Homo sapiens: one gene and its partners. The protein of the gene in region 1 interacts with the protein of each later gene in a pairwise test. Each region holds a gene or a part of one and is shown on either strand. Other genes may lie near its edges. The genes, in order: VKORC1L1, CCT2, MTIF3, BRK1, GORAB, CISD2 and AGT.

Region 1 (3,500 bases):
GTAGTACAGTGGCAGAGGCCTGATTCTAACCCAGGCAGTCTGGCTCAAGAGTCCAAGCTCTTTACCACTACTCTTTCGTCTTCCTTTCTTCCTTTCCCTCCCACCCTCCTTCTTCCTTTCCTTTCTTTTCTCTCTTTCTTTTCCTTCCTTCTTTTCTTTCTTTTTCCTTCCTTCCTTCCTTTTCTTTATTTTTCCTTCTTCCTTCCTCCTTCGTTCCTTGCTTCCTTCTTTCCTTTTCTTTTTCTTTCCTTTCCTTTTTTTTTCTTTCCTTTCTTTTCTTTCTTCTTTAACTTTTTGAGACATTGTCTCACTCTGTCTCCCCAGGCTGAGTGCAGTGGTGCAGTCATGGCTCACTGCAGCCTCAACCTCCCTGGGTCAAGTGATCCTCCAACCTCAGCTTCCTGAGTAGCTGGGTCTACAGTTGCACACCCCACCATGCCTAGCTAATTTTTTCTATTTTTCATAGTGACGAGGTCTCACTTTGTTGCCTGAGTTGGTCTCAAACTCCTGGCCTCAAGCAGTCTTCCCACTTGGCCTCCCAAAGTGCTGAGATTACAGGTGTGAGCCACCACGCCCAGCCTTTTACCACTACTTTAAATTCCATTTAGATCTAATATTGATAGAGTGATAACCATATCAACCAGATTTTTTAAATATGCAAACAATGGTGCCAGTTTCTGTATCTATGTGACAAAAATATATAGAGTTTGTGGTATCACTTTTACCTGTTTAGAGCACTCTTTGGAAAGGCAGGGAAATTACTGTGAAGGTATTGGTATTCCAGAAGTAAGTTCCTGGAGTGTTTGCCTTCTAAGGTGTGAGGACGTGGTTTGTCACACCCAGTTAACTAACAGATAGACGGTGTAGTGAGCTGTCCGGAAGACTTAGCAGGTTAGCCTAGGGAGGAAGGAGAAAGGGGTTCTGGGCACATGGAGGGAGGGGGAGGGAAAAGAGTTTGTTTGAATCTGTCCTAGATTGGGGTAGCTTTTTCGGAGGGAGGCCTTGTCGTGTGGACCTGCTGCATATAAAGACAGGAGAATTGGACCTGAGGTGTGGTGCTAGCTAAAGCGCCACACAGATCTGGGAATTTAAGAGGAGTTCATTTCCTCAATCATTAGGAAGAACTTGAAAGGGTAGCAAACTGTGGTCATTTGAGAAGAACAGCAAGTGGTCATATTTGAATGTAACATATTCAACTGGGTTGGGAAAGAACCAGAATCTAGATCTTGCCCATAGCAAGTGCAAAACCAGGCGTTCTTATAAACCATGTACTCTTGTAAACACTGATAAGACATAGCACTGAGTCCTGAGCTTTTCTTCTATAAAGTTATTGTACAGGTTGAGGATCCCTAATCCGAAAATCCAAAATCTGAAATGCCCCTGTGAGCATTTCCGTTGAGTGTCATTGGCACTCAAAGTTTTGGATTTTGGACCATTTCAGATTTTGAACTTTCAGATTTGGGATGCTCAACCGGTATATAATGCACATATTCCCAAATCTGAAAAAATCCCAAATCCAAAGCATTTCAGCTCCAAAGTGTTTCAGATAAGGAATATTCAACCTGTACTACATTGTACTAGGCTTGTATTAGATTCCCAGTTTTCAAAATTTGTATCTCAGAATCCCTGTTCTCTGTCAATGAAACAGGGATTTCATACACCTTTGATTCACATTTTAATGTTTTAAGTTTAAAATATTATAAATGTTTATACACAGTCAAATGAATCTCATGCTAAATTTTAATATATTAGAGACAACTGATTTGTCTGCCAGGTTATCTCAAGAGAGTTAATACTGAGTGAAAACAAGTGAGAACCCTAAAAGATTACATACTGTATGATTGCATTTATGTAACATTATTGAAATAACAAACCTGCAGAGATGGAGAACAGATTTAGTGGTTGCTAGGAGTTAGGAATGGGAGGTGAGGGGTGGTGTGGTTATAAAGTGGTAGCATGAGGGAGCTGTGTAGGGATGGAACAGTTCAATGTCTCAGGTGTGATTATACAAAGCTGCAAATGTGATAAAAACTTCATACAACCACACACACACATACTGCATATAAATCCTAGCGTACTCAAGTCCCATTTTGCATACAAAACTGGTGAAACCTGAATAAACTCAGGATTGGAGGAATTTGGGCGAGGGTACTTGGGACCTCCCTGTGTACTTTTTTGTAAATTCCTGTGATTTATAATTATAGTAATTTTAAAATAAAAAGTTGGCCAGGCACAGTGGCTCATGCCTGTAATCCCAGCACTTTGGGAGGCTGAGGCGGATGTATCACGTGAGGTCAGGAGTTCAAGACCAGCTTGGCCAACATGGTGAAACCCCATCTCTACTAAAAATACAAAAATTAGCCGGGCATGGTAGTGGGTGCCTGTAGTCTGAGCTACCTGGGAGGCTGAGGCAGGAGAATCACTTGAACCTGGGAGGCAGAGGTTGCAGTGAGCTGAGATCATGCCACTGCACTCCAGCCTGAGCGACAGAGCAAACTCTGTCTCAAGAAAATAAAATAAAATAGACTGGGTGTAGTGGCTCACGCCTGTAACCCCAGCACTTTGGGAGACTGAGGCGGGTGGATCACCTGAGGTCGGGAGTTGGAGACCAGCCTGACCAACATGGTGAAACCCCATCTCTACTAAAAATACAAAATTAGTCGGGCATGGTGGTGCATGCCTGTAATCTCAGCTACTCGGGAGGCTGAGACAGGAGAGTTGCTTGAACCCAGGAGGCAGAGGTTGCAGTGAGCCAAGATCACGCCATTGCACTCCAGCCTGGGCAACAAGAGTGAAACTCCGTCTGAAAAATAAAATAAAATAAAATAAAAAGTAAAAAAGCAAAAAAAAAAAAAAAGTGCATTTAGAATATTTGAGAGAAAATAAGCAAAAGGAAGAAAATGTAAATTATCTATAATGCTTACACCCAGGACAATAATCCTTGGAATAGAGTGTCTCACTTTGTGTATAGAAATGAAACTTTTAAAATGCCATTTTATTTTTTAATTAAAATTTTTTCTTTCCTTTTTTTTCCTCCTCAGAGTTAGAAAGGATAAAAATGTTATTGATTAGTAAGACTGTAGCTTTATGTTGATATTTTGAAATTTTAGGCTAGTGCTTGTTTGTTCATGTAACATATAAGCACATTCAGTACTATTAGAACTGTTGCATTATGCAATAACATGACTGCCTAATGCATATATCAGGATTAGTACATATTGTAAAGTTTTTATTTTTTACCAAAATGTTTACGACTACCAAGTATTCATTCCTTAACACTATTACATAATTAATTTAGAAATGTTTTACTTTTAAAACTTCTGGACAGGTGTAATTAAATCCTTAGATAGCGTTAATGTACTATTTAAAAAACACACACAAAACATTATCATTGGCAAAACATGCTTTATCATCTATTCATCTTTGTGAATCCGGTTTTTCTTGATACCATGCCATCAAAACAAAACAAATTTGACATAAGACTGCCCAATCATCCATAA
Region 2 (3,306 bases), on another chromosome or scaffold:
CTATGAAATTAGAAGTTAATACTGATTGTATAAACAACATAATAGTTTATGTTATTTTTCAGAATGTAAGTATTGTTTATATTTAAATCCTATAGTCGTTATATACCAAATAGTTACAAATCTTCTAACCAGTTTTACATGTCTTATGGAATAACAAAGTTTGGGAAATGCTGAGCATATAAAGTCACACACATTTTCCCAGCACATGTAATGATTATGAGGACAAAGTCCAAAAGAGTCTTTTATACGGTTATTGTAACTCTTTATGTTCCAAAAGAAAAAAAAAGCTTAGTGAAAAGAGTTACTTTTAACAACGGCCACAAAGTTCCCCTTGATTGCTTACCCAATCCAGCAGTGGTATTGCCTTCACTGTGAGCAGCCCTGAGCTGTGCCACCAGGTCTGCACTGTCATAGCCTGCATTGTCAGCTATGATGGTTGGCAACTATGAAAATGAAGAAAACAAGTAACTACTCACTCTACTGTAAGAACCACTGATTTACTCCTAACTAGGATAGCTTTTTAAAATTATACATTTAGGAACAATGTAAAATCTGCTTCAGTTACTGCTCACGAAGAGGAGAAACTCCAGAATCAAATTTAAAAGCAGTATTAACCAGTTCATTTTCTACTCATTTTAAAACTATCAATAACCACAAAACTTAAGTTCGGATCTCTCATTTTGATTAACTTACCATTCTCAGTGCTTTAGCATAAGACTCCATTGCAACAGCTTCTTTGCCTGGTGTTCTATTGGCAAGCTGTGTCACAGCATGAGCCATCAACATCTCAGAACAGCCTAAAGATTAAAATTCCAATAAAATATTGCAATGCTTAGTTGTCTCCAAGATACTGAATTACTGACTTTAAGATATGCCAAGCATTTTAAAATTTAGTGCAAAAGCAATATAAGATTTCTGTAAGAACCATTAAAACCACTTATGACTTATATTGTACTTTAAGAAATTAAAAATATATTCAACATTTTCTAAATGCTTACCTCCTCCATAAACTGTTCTAGAGTCCTTTACAGTTTGCGCAAGAACACAAAGAGCATCATGCAATGATCTTTCTGCTTCATCTAAAATTTGTTGAGTGGCACCACGCAAAACAATGGTACAAGCCTCACCTAAAATTAAAAGACACAGTGACCACTTAGGGATAAAAAGTTTGCCTTCTATTATTTATGCCGGTGTTGGTTATATTACTGGGTTCTGAAAGCTGACCTGTCTTCCTGTATTATACATTCTCCAACAATCAAGGCTCATAATGGTTCTAAGTTATCAAGGAAAAAAAACTGTTGAACATGCACTGTTCACAAAGACACGGTAAATATGAGGTTGACTCAAGAGACTGAAACAAAGTATGTATCATGCTTCTGAAGAGTTAAGACTTGTAAGATATGCTATTCTAGTAACTACAATAACCTTTACTTCAACAGAGCCTAGCAAGAATTTAGACACCCTAACCAGGATCTACATAATCACTCACCAAGGGCAACCCCAGAAAAGTGAATGAGTTTGTCTTCTCCAATCATGACTTCCTCGATAAGTTTGCAACTTCCAAGCTTCACCAGTTCTGGGTGATCAAAGGTAGAGGCAATTTCACCACCTATAAACATAAACATGTATTAGTTAAATGCACAGCAGGCTTAAAATTCCTGTTTTCTAATAAGCAGTAATGGATAGATAATGATAGGTAATGTGTTTCACATTTTAAAAATTGATTGCTGATTATATTCCTGGCACTCTTTTTAAATACTTCATATCGACTAATTATTTAATCTTTAAAATAATCCTCTTGGATAGGCTCCATTATTATCCCATTTTACACATGATAAAAATGAGGCCAAGAGGTTTACCTTCCTATCCAAAGACCTAACTAGGATGAATATAAAAAGCTGGGGTTCAAACTCAAGCAGTCTGGCTTCAGACCTATAAGCACACACTATACAATACTACCTTCCCAAGGTTAAACTGAGTCTTAAAGCAGTTACTTTTGAGTTTAAATTCAGATTCTCTTCTGAATCCAACCTATAAGACTAAGACCTCATGATACAATTCCCAGCACAAGACATGAAAATATTTGTCCTATAAGTCAACCACTATACACTTCATGAACTGCTTAATAAGCACCTGATATCTCTAATTATCACAAATGAAATGTCCTAAGGCCTAAAAAAACAAGAAATGCATACTAAGAATTTCCCAGACCAAATTTAATAAGAACAAATTAATTTAGTCCTTATGTCTCATTTCTATTCCTATTTTCCCTCCATCTTCCATGCTGTAAACTGAACAGGTCAGCCACTTCGTTCCCTATTTCCTAACTAAGCAAAAGTCAGGTTTCCATTTCAAAATCCTTTTCTCTAGCTGACTACTCCTTTCATAATGTGAATTGCATATATTATCAATCAACCCTTCTTTTCCTATGCCTTACTGATAAATCTGTCAATGCTCTATTATTTATTTTATAATAAATTCATAAAGACTCTGGTCTTTGAAACTACTAATTTATACTCATAATTTGTATAAAGTTCTTTTTACTTTTGGCTGGCAAAATTCTGAGACTGCTTTGTGTTCTAGATGTGAGACACAACAGATATTTGGGACGTCATATCCAAAAATAAGACTAACTTGGCTTATGAAACTTTTCACTTCATCCTTCTACATGAGACTTTTCTTTCTTTTTAAAGAGAGAGTGTCTTGCTACCTTGCCTAGACTGGAGCGCAATGACTATTCACCAGGCACCATCATAGCACAACCTCCTGGGCACAAGCAATCTTTCTGCCTCAGCCTCTTGAATAGATCAAACTGCTGGCACATGCCACCATGCCCAGTGCAAGACATTTATTTAATGACACTTGCAAGAACCAATGTCATCATACACCTTTGACAACCACTGAGCTTTTAAGGATGGGAGCCACCATGTGGTCACCTTCATAGACATACAGTTGGTGTACTTAATAAACATTCTTCTGGGTATAGAGCAATTTCATGTCAAGACCTTACGATATGTTTATCCCATCAATATATTATTACCATTTACTTCTTACATCTTTTTTTTTTTTTTTTTTTGAGACGGAGTCTCGCTCTGTCACCCAGGCTGGAGTGCAGTGGCGCCAATCTCAGCTCACTGCAACCTCCACCTCCCGGGTTCAAGTGATTCTCCTGCCTCAGCCTCCCGAGTAGCTGCGACTACAGGCACCCACCACCACGCCTGGCTAATTTTTTTATTTTTAGTAGAGACAGGGTTTCACCATATTGACCAGGCTGGTCTCAAACTCCAGACCTTGTGATCTGCCCAC
Region 3 (2,711 bases), on another chromosome or scaffold:
ACAACTTTAAAACAAACAGAAGAAAAGACAGAATGGTTTGTGATCTCAGGATAGGGGATGGAACTCATTAAGAAAAAAAGGCAAAATGAAAAATCTAACTGGGATACGGTTTTTTCCATCATACACAACAGAGAACCCTATAAATCGGAGAAAAACCATCTACGTAGAAAAATAAAGGAATATAAACACGCAATTCACAGAAGAAAAAAGTGAAATACACATTAATTTCTCACCATTAAAATGACAAATGAGGGAGGAGGTAGAGAAACTGCATACACTGCTGCTGAGCAGTTTGATCCATTTAGGTTCATAGACCCTAGAGTATGCACCAGGGTTCATCATAAAGATTGGGGGCCAGGTGTGCTGGCTCACGCCTATAATCCCAGCACTTTGGGAGGCTGAAGCAGGCAGATCGTTGGAGCTCAGGAGTTCAAGACCTGAGCAACATAGCGAGACCCCATCTCTACAAAAAAAAAAAAAAAAAAAAAAGGCCAGGCATGGTGGTGTGCACCTGTGGTCCCAGCTGTGTGGGAGGCAGAGGTGGGAGGATTGCTGGATCCCAGGAGATGGAGGCTGCAGTGAGCCGAAATCACACCACAGCACTCCAGCCTGGGCAACAGAGCAAGACTGTTTTTTTTTTTTTTTTTTTTTTTTTTAAACACAGGGTCTCGCTCTGTCACCCAGGCTGAAGTGCAGTGGCATGATCATGGTTCTTCACTGCAGCCTTTGCCTCCTAGGCTCAAGTGATCCTCCCACCTCAGCCTCCCAAGTAGCTGGGATCACAGGTTTGCACCACTACACCTTGCTAATTTTAAAATTTTTTGTAGAGATGGGGTTTTGCTATATTGCCCAGGCTGGTATTGAATTCCTGAGCTCAAGCCATCCACCTGCCTTGGCCTCCCAAAGTGCTGGGATTACAGACGTGAGCCACCACGCCCAGTGACCTTTTTTTTTTTAAGTGACATAGTTTGACGTCATTATCCTCCCTGGTTGGTCTCTTCTGAATATTGTTTTCCAGTCAACATCCTTGTTAAATGTGGCATTACAAAACTGAGCCGCAGATAACATGTGGTTTTCTGAAGGCACACAACCTCACGATGCAGTGCTGGGAGCAGTCATCTGATGCCTGTCCCCGTGCGCCATCCATTGAACTTTCATAATGATTGGCACTTTTTAGGAACTATGAAAAACAAACATCTTTGCTTAATATCCAATTCCTGACTTCTGTGAGGCTTAAATGACAAGTGCCTCGTCAAGTGACTGGTTGTATATCTAAGAGTGTTGCTACTGATATTGCAACACAATGCTTTGGCATGGGAGATGCTCTGTGAATCACTTCAGAGTCGAAAAGGTGCTTCCAGGCTAGGCGCAGTGGATCACGCCTGTAATCCCAGCACTTTGGGAGGCCGAGGAGGGCAGATCACTTAAGGCCAGGAGTTCAAGACCAGCCTGGCCAACATGGTGAAACCCCCTCTCTATTAAAAATACAAAAATTAGCCGGGCGTGGTGGCGGGCGCCTGTAATCCCAGCCACTGGGGAGGCTAAGGCAGGAGAATCGCTTGAGCCTGGGAGGCGAAGGTTGCAGTGAGCACACATCGCACCACTGCACTCCAGCCTGGGCGGCAGGCAGAGACTCATCTCAAAAAAATAAAAAGGTGCTTCCAGATAATTAACCAAACACCTCCACTTTAGAGTTGAAGAAGGGGAAGAAAAACAAAAGGAGGGAGGTTAAATGAGTGGCCCGGCAGAGGGCAGGGAACTTGAATGTACCCCTCCTAATCTCACTCTGTTTCACCCCATCGGCTACTCAGCTTGCTGCGGCATTGGGAGAAGGCCACAGGACAGGGGAAAGAGTTCTCTTCACTTTGGTTTGTTTGCCTGGTTTCTCCCACATTTTACACAGGTTTAAAGGGAAGAGATAATGGGCAGGGTATTGTGGAAAAACAGTGAAAAAAAGGGAACAGGAGTAAGTGCAGGATAAAGGAGGAAAGACAGACACTGGGAATGGTGGTTGAATCATGAATTTTCTAGTTTCTCATTTCCCTCTTGTCACAGGCACCTTGACAAATGCTAGAATTTAAACTGCTGATTTGTAGCTCTTAAAGGATTCAGGGAGCCAACAGCAAAATACCTACCAGTTTTGGGGTTCGCCTTCTCCATCTCCCTCAGCCTCTGCCGCTCCTGGAGGATCTGCAATCCTGTCATGAGCTGATACTCTGCAGGTTCTGTGCTGGTGTTCCTTTGAACCAGTCGCAGGTCTCGCTCATCCATAAGTCTAATCACATTTGCTCGGTGCATGTTTCCCAAATCATTGCCCTTCTCATCAAATAAGTGAATAACTCGCTGACTAATTTTTCTTCCAACGTTACTAAAAGCTGTTTTATTCTTTTTTGTCTTTTTTCCTTCATTCTGGGTGTCTTCAGCGGTACTAAAGGCTTTTGCATGAATTAGGAAGGAGAGTCTTGGGGCAGAAGCAATAGGGGACAACTGTGCTGGTGCTGTCTTTTGCAGGATGTGTTTACCAAAACATCTAATGCAACTATTTTCAGACTTTACAGTTTGTAGTGTTAACCTCTTTAGAAAAAGAGCAGCCATCCTAAGAAAGTAGTAAGAAGAGTTCATTAAAATTCAATCACTTATTCCCTTGGTCTGACATTGTGGTACATGGCAGGGTGTGTGTGAGGTTGTGGAGGCTGTAACTGCAAGTGTGA
Region 4 (3,500 bases), on another chromosome or scaffold:
ACAGGATTCGCCATGTTGGCCATGCTGCTCTTGAACTCCTGGCCTCAAGTGATCCACCTCTGTTCAACCTCCCAAAGTGCTGGGATTACAGGCATGAGCCACTGTGCCTGGCCATAAGTGGATTTATTGCGATAAAAGTTATACAGTATGCCTACCTCTCCTGCCTCCCCTTCCACCTCTGCCACCCATGAGGTAGCAAAACCAACCTCTCTTCTTCCCCTTCTTCCTCAGCCTACTCAGCAGGAAGACAATGAGGATGAAGACCTTTATGATGATCCACTGCCATTTAATGAATAGTAAATATATTTCCTTTTCCTAATGGTTTTTTTTGTTTGTTTGTTTTGTTTGTTTTTTTGAGACGGAGTCTTGTTCTGTTGCCTGGAGTGCAGTGGTGCGATCTCGGCTCACTGCAAGCTCTGCACTCGCGCCACTGCACTCCTGCCTGGGCGAAAGAGCAAGACTCCATCTCAAAAAAAAAAAAAAAAAAGAATTTACTTTGAGGCCAGGCACAGTGGCTCATGCCTATAATCCCAGCACTTTGGGAGGCCGAGGCAGGTGAATCACTTGAGCTCAGGAGTTTGAGACCAGCCTGGCCAATATGGCGAAACCCCATCTCTATAAAAAATACAAAAATTAGCCAGGCATGGTGTCTCATGCCTGTAATTCCAAGCTACCTGGGAGGCTGAGGCATGAGAATCACTTGAACCCTGGAGGCAAAGGTTGCAGTGAGCCAAGATCGTGCCACTGTACTCCAGCCTGGGTGACAGAGTGAGACTCTCTCTCAAAGAAAAAGAATTTACTTTGAGGGAGCATCTGAAGTTCTTCAAATATGTTAGCAATTCTGTAGTCCTTACCCTGACCACAGAGAATCTGCATGGGCCATGTATTTTGGAGAGAGAACTGTTGTTCTAAGATAGTGAATGACTTTCTGAAAAGCATTTACCTTGTGATTCCTGCTGGTGAGAGTAGAGTCACAGTCTCCCACGTGAACTTGAGGACATACAAATCGTAATGTAGCAAAAATATCATAACACTAGGCCTATTTTGCACTTTGGAATTGGTGAAGTTTCTAAAAATAGATGGTTAGAGATTATCGCTTTTTATTCTTATGCTATTTTTTTCTGGTTCTAAAGGTAATATATGCAGAGAAGTATAAAGACAAAATAGAGAATGTGGCTGTTTTTTTAAAATCTTGGTTTTTGTACTGAGCCAACAAATGTAGCATGCCTGGTGTGTGTCAGATGCTGTGAGAAAGGAATAAATATGAATAAATGGGTATGATACCCACTCCTAAGACATTCAGAATTTTGCTGGAAAAGTAAGACTTAACTACAAAAACATTCCAAAAGAAAGACAGTTTTTGTTTTTTTTTTGAGACAGAGTCTCATTCTGTCGCCCAGGCTGGAGTGCAGTGGTGCAATCTCGGCTCACTGCAACCTCCGCCTCCCGGGTTCAAGCGATTCTTCTGCCTCAGCCTCCTGAGTAGCTGGGACTACAGGCATGCGCCACCACGCCTGGCTAATTCTTTTTTTTTTTTTAAGATGGAGTCTTGCTGTGTTGCCCAGGCTTGAGTACAGTGGTGCAATCTTGACTCACTGCAACCTCTGCCTCTTGGGTTCAACTGATTCTCCTGCCTCAGCCTCCCAAATAGCTGGGATTACAGGCACACACAACCATGCCCAGCTACTTTTTGTATTAGTAGTAGAGATGGGGTTTTGCCATGTTAGCCAGGCTGGTCTCAAACTCCTGACCTCAAGTGATCTGCCCACCTCAGCCTCCCAAAGTGCTGGGATTACAGGTGTGAACCACCGTGCCCGGCCTGACAGTATTGATTTTTGTAATGCTGAAGTTATATGCATTAAGTTCAGAGAAGGAGCTGTCTGATAACAGCATTTGTTTCCTAACGAGAACTGGTATTTTCAGTTAAAGGCTGGTGATAATGTACACATACTTGTGCTCTGGTTTCAGATTTATCCAGCTGCTGAATGCTTTCTCAGTGTTTTTTATTTGAACCAGCGTATACTTATTAGGATTTGAAATATGACCAAGGTTTCTGCAGTTGAACATTTTCTATTTCTCAACAGTGTTTATCCATGTAGGCCAGGAGCATAGTATTGTTCTTGAATTCTAATTCATTACCAGATTGACAGCTAGAACAGAATAGCCACCCAGGAAGGAAACTTCCCTCTCTCCTACCTCCCCCAATAATTTTCGTATGTCTTCATGGGAAATGGCAGGTTGTCAGAGATAATATTCATGCTCTTACTCAGTAGCATACATAACGTGCTTTCAGACTTCCAAAAACCAGACTGAAAAGAGGCTTGGTCCTGTTGGGCAGTTCCGACAGAAAGTGGCAGTACATCCAGGAAAAGGGGGATGCTGAAGTGATCATACTTAAGCTAGACCTGGGAATTCAAGCAGCACAAGCGTAAAAAGAATGAAGAATGTCCAGAAATGGCAAATCCATAGAGACAAAGATTAGTGGTTCCCAGGGACTGAGGGGTGACAGAATGGGGAGTGACAGGACTAAGAGGTATAAGGTATCTTTTGGGGATGATGAAAATATTCTAAAAGTAGATTATAATTATTGCACAACTCTGTAAGTATACTAAAAACCACTGAATTGTATACTTTAAGCAGGTGAAAGAATGGAAAGTGGCAGAGTTGGGCTGGAGACCTGGGGTATAAATTATAGCCCCGGAGGCACAGAAAGATGATAGTAGTGTGCATTGGGATGCACACAGTATGGGAAAGAATACCAGTGACCCAACATGGGCCCTCAGCTTACCTAGACCTCAGTTTTCCCACTTGTAAGGTGAATAGAGTTACACTAGAGTCAATCTTTTGTTCCACTAATATACCAGAATCCATCTTTTTTTTTTCAGTCAACATCTATGTACCAGGCAAGATGCTAAGGTTACAAGAGGCAATATGTACTTCTTTTGATTAACTTGTTCTAACGGTGAAACAGACATGTAAATAAATTGTAAATTACAAGTACATAAATATCATTTGGTTTCGTAACATGAATATTTTCCTATTTCATTAAATATTCCTCAAACTTTTTTTTTTTTTAAGACAGAGTTTCACTCTTGTTGTCCAGGCTGGAGTGCAATGGTGCAATCTCGGCTCACTGCCTCAGGTGATCCACCCACCTCGGCTTCCCAAAGTGCTGGGATTACAGGCGTGAGCCTCTGCACCCGGCCACTTTTTTTTTTTTTTTTTTTTTTTTTGAGATGGAGTCTCGCTCTGTTGCCCAGGCTGGAGTGCAGTGGTGCAGTCTTGACTCTCTGCAACCTCCGCCTCCTGGGTTTAAACCATTCTCCTGCCTCAGCCTCCAGAGTAGCTGGGATTACAGGTGTGCGCCACCATGCTTAGCTAATTTTGTATTTTTAGTAGAGACAGGATTTCTTTTTTTTTTGTATTTTTAGTAGGTATGGGGTTTCTCCATGTTGGTCAGGTTTGTCTTGAACTCCGACCTCAGGTGATCCGCCCGCCTC
Region 5 (3,500 bases), on another chromosome or scaffold:
AGTGTAACAGAGTAAGATAGAAAACTGAGTCATTAACACAGCATTCCCTTGTGAAAAAAGACAAACCAGGATGATTAAAGCAATGTTGAAAGGGCTGAAAACCCTGAAATTGGACATATTTTTTTGCCCTTTTATCTGTCTGCAAAGTCCATGTAATTCATTACATGTGTTAGTTCATTTTAAAAATACTCCATGGTATTTTTTCTCTTTTAAAAAATGCCAATGGTTGAAACCAAGGAAACATATATTAAACCATTTCATACAGAGTATAATTGAAAGGAAAAAAAAAGAGAAAATATTTCAAATTTCCAAGACAGAGGATATGCTTAAAATATTCATAAGCTTTTAAAAACTAAACTAGATCCTCTTACTCTGATGAAAGCTAAAGTGAGGACTAGACTTCAATCCTATAGGACTATATCAGATATCAAAAATTTTAATGGAAAGAACACAGACTTGGTGTCAGAGTAACAGTTTTGGCGAAACCACTCAGATATTTACTTTGCTAGATGCTGAAAGATGAGCAAAAACACTTCCAAACATTAAATAGCTGAGGGTTTCGCAGCAAAGACTAAAACGTAAATAAATAATGCAAGAACTGCTCTAATGGCACACGAACAAGGTTAACTAGTAGGGCAGAGTTAAGGAAGACTTCACTGAAGAGGAGACACTTGAATTAGCACAAAAGAAGAATAAATACAGCACTGAATGGGGTTGTTTTGAGGCTTCAATGATGATATACATAAAAGCCCCTGGAACAGCTGGCAATAAACATTAATTAAATCATACTCCTTGTTCAGATTCAATTTCCCCAACTCACCGAGCGTATGAATAGTCTAAGCTGGCCTGATCAATCCGGTTCCTGAGAATTCCAATGTCAGCTGACACCATGTCATCTAAAGCCTGCAACTCCTTCTGGATCCGCTTTAGTTTCATGGTCTCTGCCTGAGTTCTTTTGGATCTAGAAAATCAGGTATGTGAGTGGGAAAATAAGAACATTTTAAAACCATGTGTCCATATACAATGTAAGTGAAAAAGCAAGATACTGCATATACATTTATAATTTATATTTTAAAAGTTAGAAAAAAATCAGAAAAATTGAAATAAAGTAAAAGCTGGTTAACATTTGAGTTTTTGAAATTTTATATTTGCATGTTTCATAAAGTAACAAATAAGTCTAAAAAAACTCAGCAAATAGTTCATTTTAGATTGATATTCATTCTGTAAAGAGAACAAACACTAAAAGAATATATCTGTGTTCCCTTTACATTGAAACATTCAACAGAGCTTTCCAAATTTCTAGTCTTTAATTCTTCCTCTTGCTAAGCCCATTTTCATTTGTCTGATACTTACCTGACATTAAGAACAGATAGATGTCTATACTAAACCACACCTCTTTATATATCTGAGAACATCCACTTAGTTTTAACTTTCTTGGGACCCATTTCCCCAAACTTTTATTGCTTTGATTCTTGTTCTCTAGGAAAACTACTAGTTACGAAAATTCTTTATGGAGCTGAACATCAAAACACTCATTTTCCTTATTTAAAAGCACATCCAACCTCATAATTTCTCAATCCCCTCTCCCAAGTACAATATATACTTAAGAAAGGGAACAAACAAATAAAAAAGCAACCCTTTAATCATGATTTCACTCATTTCAAATTTTCACACACATTGTGAAGGAAGAAGAAAAATCCCCACATAAATCCACCATGTTACATAGCACATTCTCTTGATTTCTACTCTTAGGCATTTACCCTTCCTTTCTGCCTACAAAACTTCACTTAACAGTATGATTCTTTTACGTCAAGTACTTCATTGTCCATTTATTAATAGTTCAAACGTTGTATTTCCTTACACTTCTGTTTATACTGGTGCTGTCTAAAATCAAAAGCACTTATGAGAAGAACTGCTGAGCCTGTACATCTTTTTGTAAAACCACAGAAAACAGCCTTCCCATCTCTTAGAAATTGAAGACTACTAAAATGCTTTAATTATTTTTAAATAATCACTTACCAAAAAAAAAAAAAAAGAGGGCACTACTCTTTTATCTGCTGGTTTTTTCCTTTGAAACATAGTAACTCAGTGAGTTGCATTATTTCCTATGCTTCAAGAAAGATCAAGGTGTACCAGTAGTAGAAAAAGAAAAATCACCATTTCTCAACTACACTCACTCCTCTGGCAGACAAAATTCTGAACTACTCTTATACCCATCACCTTCTTCCCTCTTCTCCTGCCCCTACACATACTCTAGCTTCAAGCAGTAACAGTTTGACAGACTTTTCTGGAAGTCTAAAAAGAAAATGTACTTCCTTGCATTTAGTTTTCACTATTCACAACCATGGATATATTGACTAAGTTTAGTTTCCTAAGGCCACAGGAGATTAGACAGAAACTACAAACTCAGCAAGAGTGGTGGGGGATGGGAAGAATGATTCCAATGGGAATGTTGTTGTGTGCGGCTGGTACAATGCAGTAAATGTGAAGGGGCTGCTGATAGACACTGGAAGGTGAAAGAAAAATTGAATCTCACACAGTGCTCATAATAATGACCCTGAGTCATCAATAAAAAGTTAAACTATATCATGTATCTTCTACTTGTGGAGGCGGGGCAAATTATTTAAGAAAAATGCCCATAGGAAATCCAATTAAGATTCATGGGAGTATGTCACTTATGTAGAAAACCTTATTCCTCTACACATCAAATGATTAAGGCCTCCCCACATAAAAATTAAAACTTGCATTTGTTGCTAATTTACATATACTGATAGCTATTTACTGCTTCCCTTATGAATGTGTAGATGGTTAAAACTGGGAGCACTAATGAAGGTCTTTAAAACTGCAACTATATTTACAAATTTAATATGCTCTATGCTTAAAAAGTTCTCTTTAATAAATTATAACTAGTATTTCAGTATCACTTATAAAGCATAATTTGTTTAGTTAGTCTTAAAAGTAATGGTTGAAGAAAAAATATCAGTTTATTAAAAGAGACATGGGAAAACAAATATAACACATGACACAACTGGTTACAGGTTACAAACAGCCTCTCCTGGTTCAGGTGCCTCACCTTTCTGCAATAGCTTTAGCCAAAAGAGCTTTTTTACGTTTATTTTTCTCTTCCATTAGCCGTTGTTCTTGTTGGAGGACTTCCCAACGAGATTTTTCTTGCCTAGGGGGCAAAAAAAGCATAAAAATGAGTTTATGAAAGAAAAAGAAACTGCTACCCTATCCAACACCTTACCAGTCTCAGTCCTCTAAGTATAAAATTTAATCAAGAAGATTTATGTATATGTTCTTTCAAAAGTCCTCTTAAAAGAAACCCATCTGCAGTTCATTATTTTGCTCTAATGGGAACAAAGACTACGATCTAAAGTAAAGAGGCTTACATAAATTGGACCTCTGAAATCCATTATATATATAATCTAGGAATCCACAAACTGGAAGCCAGAATACTGTGGCATGTGTTTAGGAGTACAAAGAAATTTGTGTAAGTT
Region 6 (3,500 bases), on another chromosome or scaffold:
GAAGGTGCTGAAAGTTTTTTTCTTAAATATTTTAAGTAGTCTTCCTGTATTTTAACTTACACTGTCATTATTCATAAGCCATGAACAAAGACAAGTAAGTACAGACCTTGTAGGAATTATCTCAAATGCCAGTTTATTGGAGTACAAACTCAATTAGGCTAAAACTTACTGAGGTCTTGGTTTATGTAAGTCTCTGTTAAAGGGTAGGGAGTTAGGGATTTTTTGTTTAGTTGGGGAGGAGACAAATATTTACCTAACTATATAGTTTTAAGGCAGAATGCATTAATAGTTTGAATTGTGTTCTGTAGTTTTTACTGAGTGGGTTCCTACTTCATTCGTTTCTCCCAGCAATCCTATGAAGTTAGAAGACTCTTTACTTTTCTTTGTGCCTTGAAAATTCTGCGCTCAAGTGCTTGAGCTCCTGGCTTCTCATTCGTTAGGTCTCTGCTTAAAGGTTCTTTTTTCAGAAACCTTCCCTGACCCCTTACCTAAAATTGCAGCCACCCTACTGCTTTGCCCCAGGTTAGTTTTTCTCTTATGTCATCCTTTATTTCCTTTATAACAGTTACTATAGTCTGTGATCATCTTGTTTATTTGTTCACTTGTTTATAGTCTCTGTCCTCTGAAATATATACCCTATGAGAGAAGGGACCTTATCTATTAGCCTGTATCCCCACATAGTGCAGTTTGTGGAGTGTGGTAGGTACTAAGTAAATATTGTTGAACAAATGAGCTTACAGTTGTTATTCCTGCTTTACAGACAAAAGAAACCTGGTTCCAAGTATATGAAAATCTGGATTTATACCACAGATAAACTGAATTAGTTGTTTACTGAAGTCCTGTTATGTGCAAATTACTAAGCACTGGTTACATAGATATAAATAAGACAGCTACTGTATTTGCATTTAGCACAGTATCTCTACATAGTAGGTGTATTAGTCTGTTTTCACACTGCTATAAAGGTAACTACTCAAGAGGCCAGGTGCTGTGGCTCATGCCTGTAATCCCAGTACTTTGAGAGGCCAAGGTGGGCAGATCATGAGGTCAGGAGATCGAGACCATCCTGGTCAACATGGTGAAACCCCATCTGTACTAAAAATACAAAAAAATTAGCTGGGTTTGGTGATGCACACCTGTAATCCCAGCTACTCAGGAGGCTGAGGCAGGAGAATCACTTGAACCCCTGAGGTGGAGATTGCAGTGAGCCAAGATCATGCCACTGCACTCCAGCGTGGTGACAGAGTAAGACTCCATCTGGAAAAAAAAAAAAGATAATACCCAAGAATGGGTAATTTATAAAGGAAAGAGGTTTAGTTGACTCACAGTTCTGCATGGCTAGGTAGGCCTTAGGAAACTTACGGTCATGGTAGAAGGGAGCGCAGACACCTTCTTCACAAGGAGGCTGGAGAGAGAAGAGTGAGGAGTGAAAGGGCAAGAGCCCCTTATAAAACCAGATCTCATGCGAACAGCATGGGGAAAACCACTCCCATGATCCAATCACCTCCCACCAGTTTCCTCCCTCAACATGTGGAAATTATGGGGATTATAAGAGGTGAGATTTGGGTGGGGACACAGAGCCAAGCCATATTATTCCACCCCTGGCTCCTCCCAAATTTCACATTCATTTTGCATTTCAAAATCAATCATGCCTTCCCAACAGTCCTCCAGAGTCTTAATTCATTTCATCATTAACTCAAAAGTCCACAGTACAGAGTCTCATCTGAAACAAGGCAAGTCCCTTCCACCTATGAGCCAGTAAAATAAAACATAAGTTAGTTCCTTTTAAGATACAATGGCAGTACAGGCACTGGGTAAATACACCTATTCCAAATGGGCAAAATTGGCCAAAACAGAAGGGCCACAGGGCCCATGCAAGTCTGAAATCCAGTGGGGCAGTCATTAAATCATAAAGCTCCAAAATGTTCTCCTTGACCCCATGTCACATCTGGAGAACACTGATGCCAGGGGTAGGCTCCCATGGCCTTGGGCAGCTCCTTCAAGGGCTGGCATCGAGTGCCTGCGGCTTTTCCAGATGCATGGTGCAAGCTGTTGTTAGATATACCATTCTGGGGTCTGGAGCAGGTAGCCGCCTTCTCATGGCTCTGCCAGGCAGTGACACAGTGGGGACTCTGTGTGAGGGCTCCAACCCCACATTTCCCCTTTGCACTGCCCTAGCAGAGGTTCTCCATGAAGGCTCCACCCCTGCAGTAGACTTCTGCCTGGACATCCAGGTGTTTCCATACATCCTTTGAAATCTAGGGTGAAGTTCCCAAACCTCAATTCTAGACTTCTATGCACCCACAGGCCCAACACCACATGGAAGCCACCAAGGCTTGTGGCTTGCTCCCTCTGAAGCAGTGGCTCAAGCTGTATGTTGGCCCCTTTTAGCCATGGCTGGGACACAGGGCATCAAGTCCCAATACTGCACAAAGCAGCAAAGCCCTGGGCCTGGCCCACAAAACCATTTTTTCCTTCTAGGCCTCTGGGCCTGTGATGGAAGGGCCTGCTGTGAAGACCTCTGACATGTCCTGGAGACATTTTCCCCATTGTCTTGGCAATTAATATTTGGCTCCTTGTTACTTATGCAAATTTCTGCAGCCAGCTTGAATTTCTCCCCAGAAAATGGGTTTTTCTTTTTTTTGGGGGGGCGGGGGGAAGGAGGGGGACAGAGTCTCACACTGTCACCCAAGCTGGAGTGCAGTGACACAATCTCAGCTTGCTGCAACCTCCGCCTCCTGGGTTCAAGTGATTCTCCTGCCTCAGCCTCCCGAGTAGAACTACAGGTGTGCACCACCATGCCCAGCTAATTTTGTATTTTTAGTAGAGACGGGGTTTCACCATGTTGGCCAGGACGGTCTCGATGTCTTGACCTCATGATCTGCCCGCCTCAGCCTCCCAAAGTGCTAGGATTACAGGCATGGGCCACCAGCACCCAGCTGGGTTTTTCTTTTCTGTTGCATCATCAGACTGCAAATTTTCCAAACTTTTATGCTCTGCTTCCCTTTTAAACCTAAGTTCCGATTTCAGGTCATCTCTCTCTCAAGTTTCATCAGTCTCTTGGGCAGGGGCAAAATGCCACCAGTCTGTTTGCTAAAGCATAGCAAGAGTGACCTTTGCTCCATTTCCCAGTAAGTTCCTCATCTCCAGCTGAGACCACGTCAGCCTGGATGTTATTGTCCATATCACTGTCAGCATTTTGGTCAAAACCATTCAATAAGTCTCTAGGAAGTTCCAGACTTTCCCACATCTTACTGTCTTCTGAGCCCTCCAAAGTGTTCCAACCTCTGCCAGTTACCCAGTTCCAAAATTGCTTCCACATTTTCAGGTATCTTTATAGCAGTACCCAACTCTCTGTTGTAGCAATTTACTGTATTAGCTTTCACACTGCTATAAAAGAAATAAAAACATAAAATAAAAATACTACCCCAAACTGGGTAATTTATAAAAGAAATAAGTTTAATTGACTCACAGTTACGCATGACTAGGGAGGCCTCAGGAAA
Region 7 (3,500 bases), on another chromosome or scaffold:
GTCCTGGGGTTGAGGACTTCAACACGGGCATTATGGCCGTTGGGGGAGGTAGGACATAATTCAGCTGATATTGGTGCATTTTGCACTTGGATCATGTAGATATTTTCCATGGAGCTTTGAATCCATTTCTTCTTTTTTTTGTAGACATGAATGGATTTATTCTGGGCTAAATGGTGACAGGGAATATTGAGACAATGAAAGATCTGGTTAGATGGCACTTAAAGGTCAGTTAATAACCACCTTTCACCCTTTGCAAAATGATATTTCAGGGTATGCGGAAGCGAGCACCCCAGTCTGAGATGGCTCCTGCCGGTGTGAGCCTGAGGGCCACCATCCTCTGCCTCCTGGCCTGGGCTGGCCTGGCTGCAGGTGACCGGGTGTACATACACCCCTTCCACCTCGTCATCCACAATGAGAGTACCTGTGAGCAGCTGGCAAAGGCCAATGCCGGGAAGCCCAAAGACCCCACCTTCATACCTGCTCCAATTCAGGCCAAGACATCCCCTGTGGATGAAAAGGCCCTACAGGACCAGCTGGTGCTAGTCGCTGCAAAACTTGACACCGAAGACAAGTTGAGGGCCGCAATGGTCGGGATGCTGGCCAACTTCTTGGGCTTCCGTATATATGGCATGCACAGTGAGCTATGGGGCGTGGTCCATGGGGCCACCGTCCTCTCCCCAACGGCTGTCTTTGGCACCCTGGCCTCTCTCTATCTGGGAGCCTTGGACCACACAGCTGACAGGCTACAGGCAATCCTGGGTGTTCCTTGGAAGGACAAGAACTGCACCTCCCGGCTGGATGCGCACAAGGTCCTGTCTGCCCTGCAGGCTGTACAGGGCCTGCTAGTGGCCCAGGGCAGGGCTGATAGCCAGGCCCAGCTGCTGCTGTCCACGGTGGTGGGCGTGTTCACAGCCCCAGGCCTGCACCTGAAGCAGCCGTTTGTGCAGGGCCTGGCTCTCTATACCCCTGTGGTCCTCCCACGCTCTCTGGACTTCACAGAACTGGATGTTGCTGCTGAGAAGATTGACAGGTTCATGCAGGCTGTGACAGGATGGAAGACTGGCTGCTCCCTGATGGGAGCCAGTGTGGACAGCACCCTGGCTTTCAACACCTACGTCCACTTCCAAGGTAAGGCAAACCTCTCTGCTGGCTCTGGCCCTAGGACTTAGTATCCAATGTGTAGCTGAGATCAGCCAGTCAGGCCTTGGAGATGGGCAGGGGGCAGCCCTGCGGACATACCTGGTGACCACCCTTGAGAAGTGGGGAAGTGGCTGCTCCGCTGGGTCCCTGGATGGGCCGTCCACCTCCTGGACCTGCTGCCCTACTATGTGCACGACTATACAACATCCTTTTTCTTACATCATTTAATCCCCTTATGATGTGGTGAAGAGGTATTTGTGCCTTTGTTTACCAGTGAAGAAATAGAGACTCGGAGAAACAAAGTGCCTTGCTCAAGATGGCACAGCCACCAGTGGGGGTCCTGGGATTGAAACCCACATCTCCTGGCCCCACAGCCCAGTTCTACACTCAGAAGGGTCAGGTTCATATCTCTTGAGAAGGTCAGGAACTGGGGTCCCTGGCCCATGCAGAAATAAGCAATTGGCTTGCTTAAATCCCTTTCATGTTAGGAGGGGCATTACTGAAAACCCTCTACTACAAAGATTGTTGATTTTTTTTTTTTTTTTTATTGAGACAGGGTCTTGTTCTGTCACCCAGGCTGCAGTGTAGTGGTGCCATCATTGCTCACTGTAGCCTTGAACTCCTGGCCTCAAGCGATCCTCCCACCTCTGCCTTCCAAAGTGTTGGGATTAAAGGTGTGAGCCACTGCACCCAGCCACAGATTGCTTAAAGCATTCATTTAACAAATACTTGTTGAGGATTTGCTACTTGTAAGACTTTAAGCCTGGCATCTCAGAGGAGGCCAGAGGAGGGCTGTATAGGCCCTGCCTCCAGGCTTTTAAAGGTCAATGGGCAAATGCCTAGGATTTGGAGCTGCAGGGAAACGTGCTCCACAAGGTAACTCAGGGAAGCCTCGGGGCTCTCAGAGGACAGAGGTCACTGGGGAGCGGAGAGCAGGCCTTGCCTGGCAGTGAGGGCAACAGGGCTGGTGAAGCTAGGAGCAAGCATGATGAGCCCAGCCTGCAGAGTTTGGGGCAAGGAACGAGGATGGGGCGGTTGGCTTGGCATGAGTGTTGAACCAGAAAATGGGCCTGGGGAGGGCAGAGCTGGAGACACTTTGAACGCCATGCTTGGTAGGTGTGGGAATGGGGACGCGTTCTGTTCAGAGGTCATCCCGGAAGCCTGCCGTGTGCAGACTGGAGGCAGGGAGGATTGTTTGAAGGTTACGCAAGAGTCCAGGCACACAGTCACGGGAACACGTGCTCAGGGAGCAGCTCGGCAAATCCATGGGTGGGGTGGGGCTGAGGGGTGTGTCTAAGAGACACTGAGGAGGCTCTGTCAAGATGTTAACCTCGTGAGGGACAGAGAGCCAGGCGGGAGGTGAAAGACAAGACTGTGGAGAAAGAGGTTCAGTGGCGCATAGTGATTTTTCTTACCACAACAACCTCCTTGAGGTCTTTCCCTTCGGGTTCAGGGAGAGGTGATAGATGGGGGGATTGCTCAGCCCTGGCACTGACTGGTCACAGGGGCAGAGGCCAGCCCGAGGGTTGCCCGGTTGAGGGTGGCAGCACACTGTGCAGGGCAGAGCAGGGACACATGGACTTAGCCTGCTGTCCCTAGGAGAAGTGCTGGGAGGAGCGCTCACTGAGAAGGAGGGTCCTGCAGAAGGCAAAGGCAAGAAAGCCAGTGGCATCTGAAATGGGTCTCCCTTCGAAAGAGAGCACATCCACCTGACCCAGACCGCAGAGCCAGGCCAGGAGGAAGAGGAGGAAGAATAAAAAAGCCAACCACATCGGGACTCAAAGGAAGCCCAGGATCCTCGCCGGCCTCCACCGCATGCTGCCCTGACCCTGCCCCACTTCCTAACTTTGCTGGCCTCAGTTTCCGTCAAAGGAGGCAGCCACTTCCTGCCCACATGGTCTGTCCAGTGAGGAGATCGGGGGCTGTCTCGGGACCTCTAGGTTTCCCTTTAGCAATGATGTTCTATTTACATGACCTCAGCAGGCAGCTAGATGTGTCCCACTAGAGAGGACCTGAGGATCTGGGGCCTGATGGGCTCCAGGGTACCGTCTGCCCAGTGCTTGCTGTGCTCCTGAGCATGGGGCGCTGGCCCTGGTGGTTTCCATGACACCAGGTCCTGACTTGACCTCGACAGATTTACCTAGCCTCCGGATGAGAATGGTGAGCTGTGCATGTCAGACGAGCAGAGGGAAGACGGCAGCCACTCTCATGTCAAATCCCAGCGTCTTTTGGGAGGCAGCTTCCCTTTTTTAGTTTAGTTTGTTGGAAGAAAAGAATTGTCCCTTTCCCCCCTCTAAACTAAAAGCCTTGCCAGCCCAGGTGGGCAGCACCGAGGTCCCTGCAGGGAACGTGCAAGGGGA

What was found.
Region 2: the proteins of VKORC1L1 (region 1) and CCT2 interact in binary tests that used the Homo sapiens proteins (3 or more experiments, as listed by UniProt).
Region 3: the proteins of VKORC1L1 (region 1) and MTIF3 interact in binary tests that used the Homo sapiens proteins (3 or more experiments, as listed by UniProt).
Region 4: the proteins of VKORC1L1 (region 1) and BRK1 interact in binary tests that used the Homo sapiens proteins (3 or more experiments, as listed by UniProt).
Region 5: the proteins of VKORC1L1 (region 1) and GORAB interact in binary tests that used the Homo sapiens proteins (3 or more experiments, as listed by UniProt).
Region 6: the proteins of VKORC1L1 (region 1) and CISD2 interact in binary tests that used the Homo sapiens proteins (3 or more experiments, as listed by UniProt).
Region 7: the proteins of VKORC1L1 (region 1) and AGT interact in binary tests that used the Homo sapiens proteins (3 or more experiments, as listed by UniProt).

What each region holds. Positions count from the first base shown.
Region 1 is NC_000007.14:65,879,574-65,883,073, forward strand, and holds part of VKORC1L1 (vitamin K epoxide reductase complex subunit 1-like protein 1), read left to right. Parts: intron 1-3,500. UniProt on the Homo sapiens protein: Involved in vitamin K metabolism. Can reduce inactive vitamin K 2,3-epoxide to active vitamin K, and may contribute to vitamin K-mediated protection against oxidative stress.
Region 2 is NC_000012.12:69,595,459-69,598,764, reverse strand, and holds part of CCT2 (T-complex protein 1 subunit beta), read right to left. Parts: intron 1,610-3,306; coding exon 1,490-1,609; intron 1,128-1,489; coding exon 999-1,127; intron 798-998; coding exon 694-797; intron 444-693; coding exon 344-443; intron 1-343. UniProt on the Homo sapiens protein: Component of the chaperonin-containing T-complex (TRiC), a molecular chaperone complex that assists the folding of actin, tubulin and other proteins upon ATP hydrolysis.
Region 3 is NC_000013.11:27,437,854-27,440,564, forward strand, and holds part of MTIF3 (translation initiation factor IF-3, mitochondrial), read right to left. Parts: intron 2,597-2,711; 5' UTR 2,596-2,596; coding exon 2,136-2,595; intron 1-2,135. UniProt on the Homo sapiens protein: IF-3 binds to the 28S ribosomal subunit and shifts the equilibrium between 55S ribosomes and their 39S and 28S subunits in favor of the free subunits, thus enhancing the availability of 28S subunits on which protein synthesis initiation begins.
Region 4 is NC_000003.12:10,118,675-10,122,174, forward strand, and holds part of BRK1 (protein BRICK1), read left to right. Parts: intron 1-3,500. UniProt on the Homo sapiens protein: Involved in regulation of actin and microtubule organization. Part of a WAVE complex that activates the Arp2/3 complex. As component of the WAVE1 complex, required for BDNF-NTRK2 endocytic trafficking and signaling from early endosomes.
Region 5 is NC_000001.11:170,542,166-170,545,665, reverse strand, and holds part of GORAB (RAB6-interacting golgin), read right to left. Parts: intron 3,176-3,500; coding exon 3,074-3,175; intron 962-3,073; coding exon 821-961; coding exon of another isoform or gene 817-820; exon of another isoform or gene 1-816.
Region 6 is NC_000004.12:102,875,492-102,878,991, forward strand, and holds part of CISD2 (CDGSH iron-sulfur domain-containing protein 2), read left to right. Parts: intron 1-3,500. UniProt on the Homo sapiens protein: Regulator of autophagy that contributes to antagonize BECN1-mediated cellular autophagy at the endoplasmic reticulum.
Region 7 is NC_000001.11:230,707,623-230,711,122, reverse strand, and holds part of AGT (angiotensinogen precursor), read left to right. Parts: intron 1-269; 5' UTR 270-299; coding exon 300-1,128; intron 1,129-3,500. UniProt on the Homo sapiens protein: Essential component of the renin-angiotensin system (RAS), a potent regulator of blood pressure, body fluid and electrolyte homeostasis.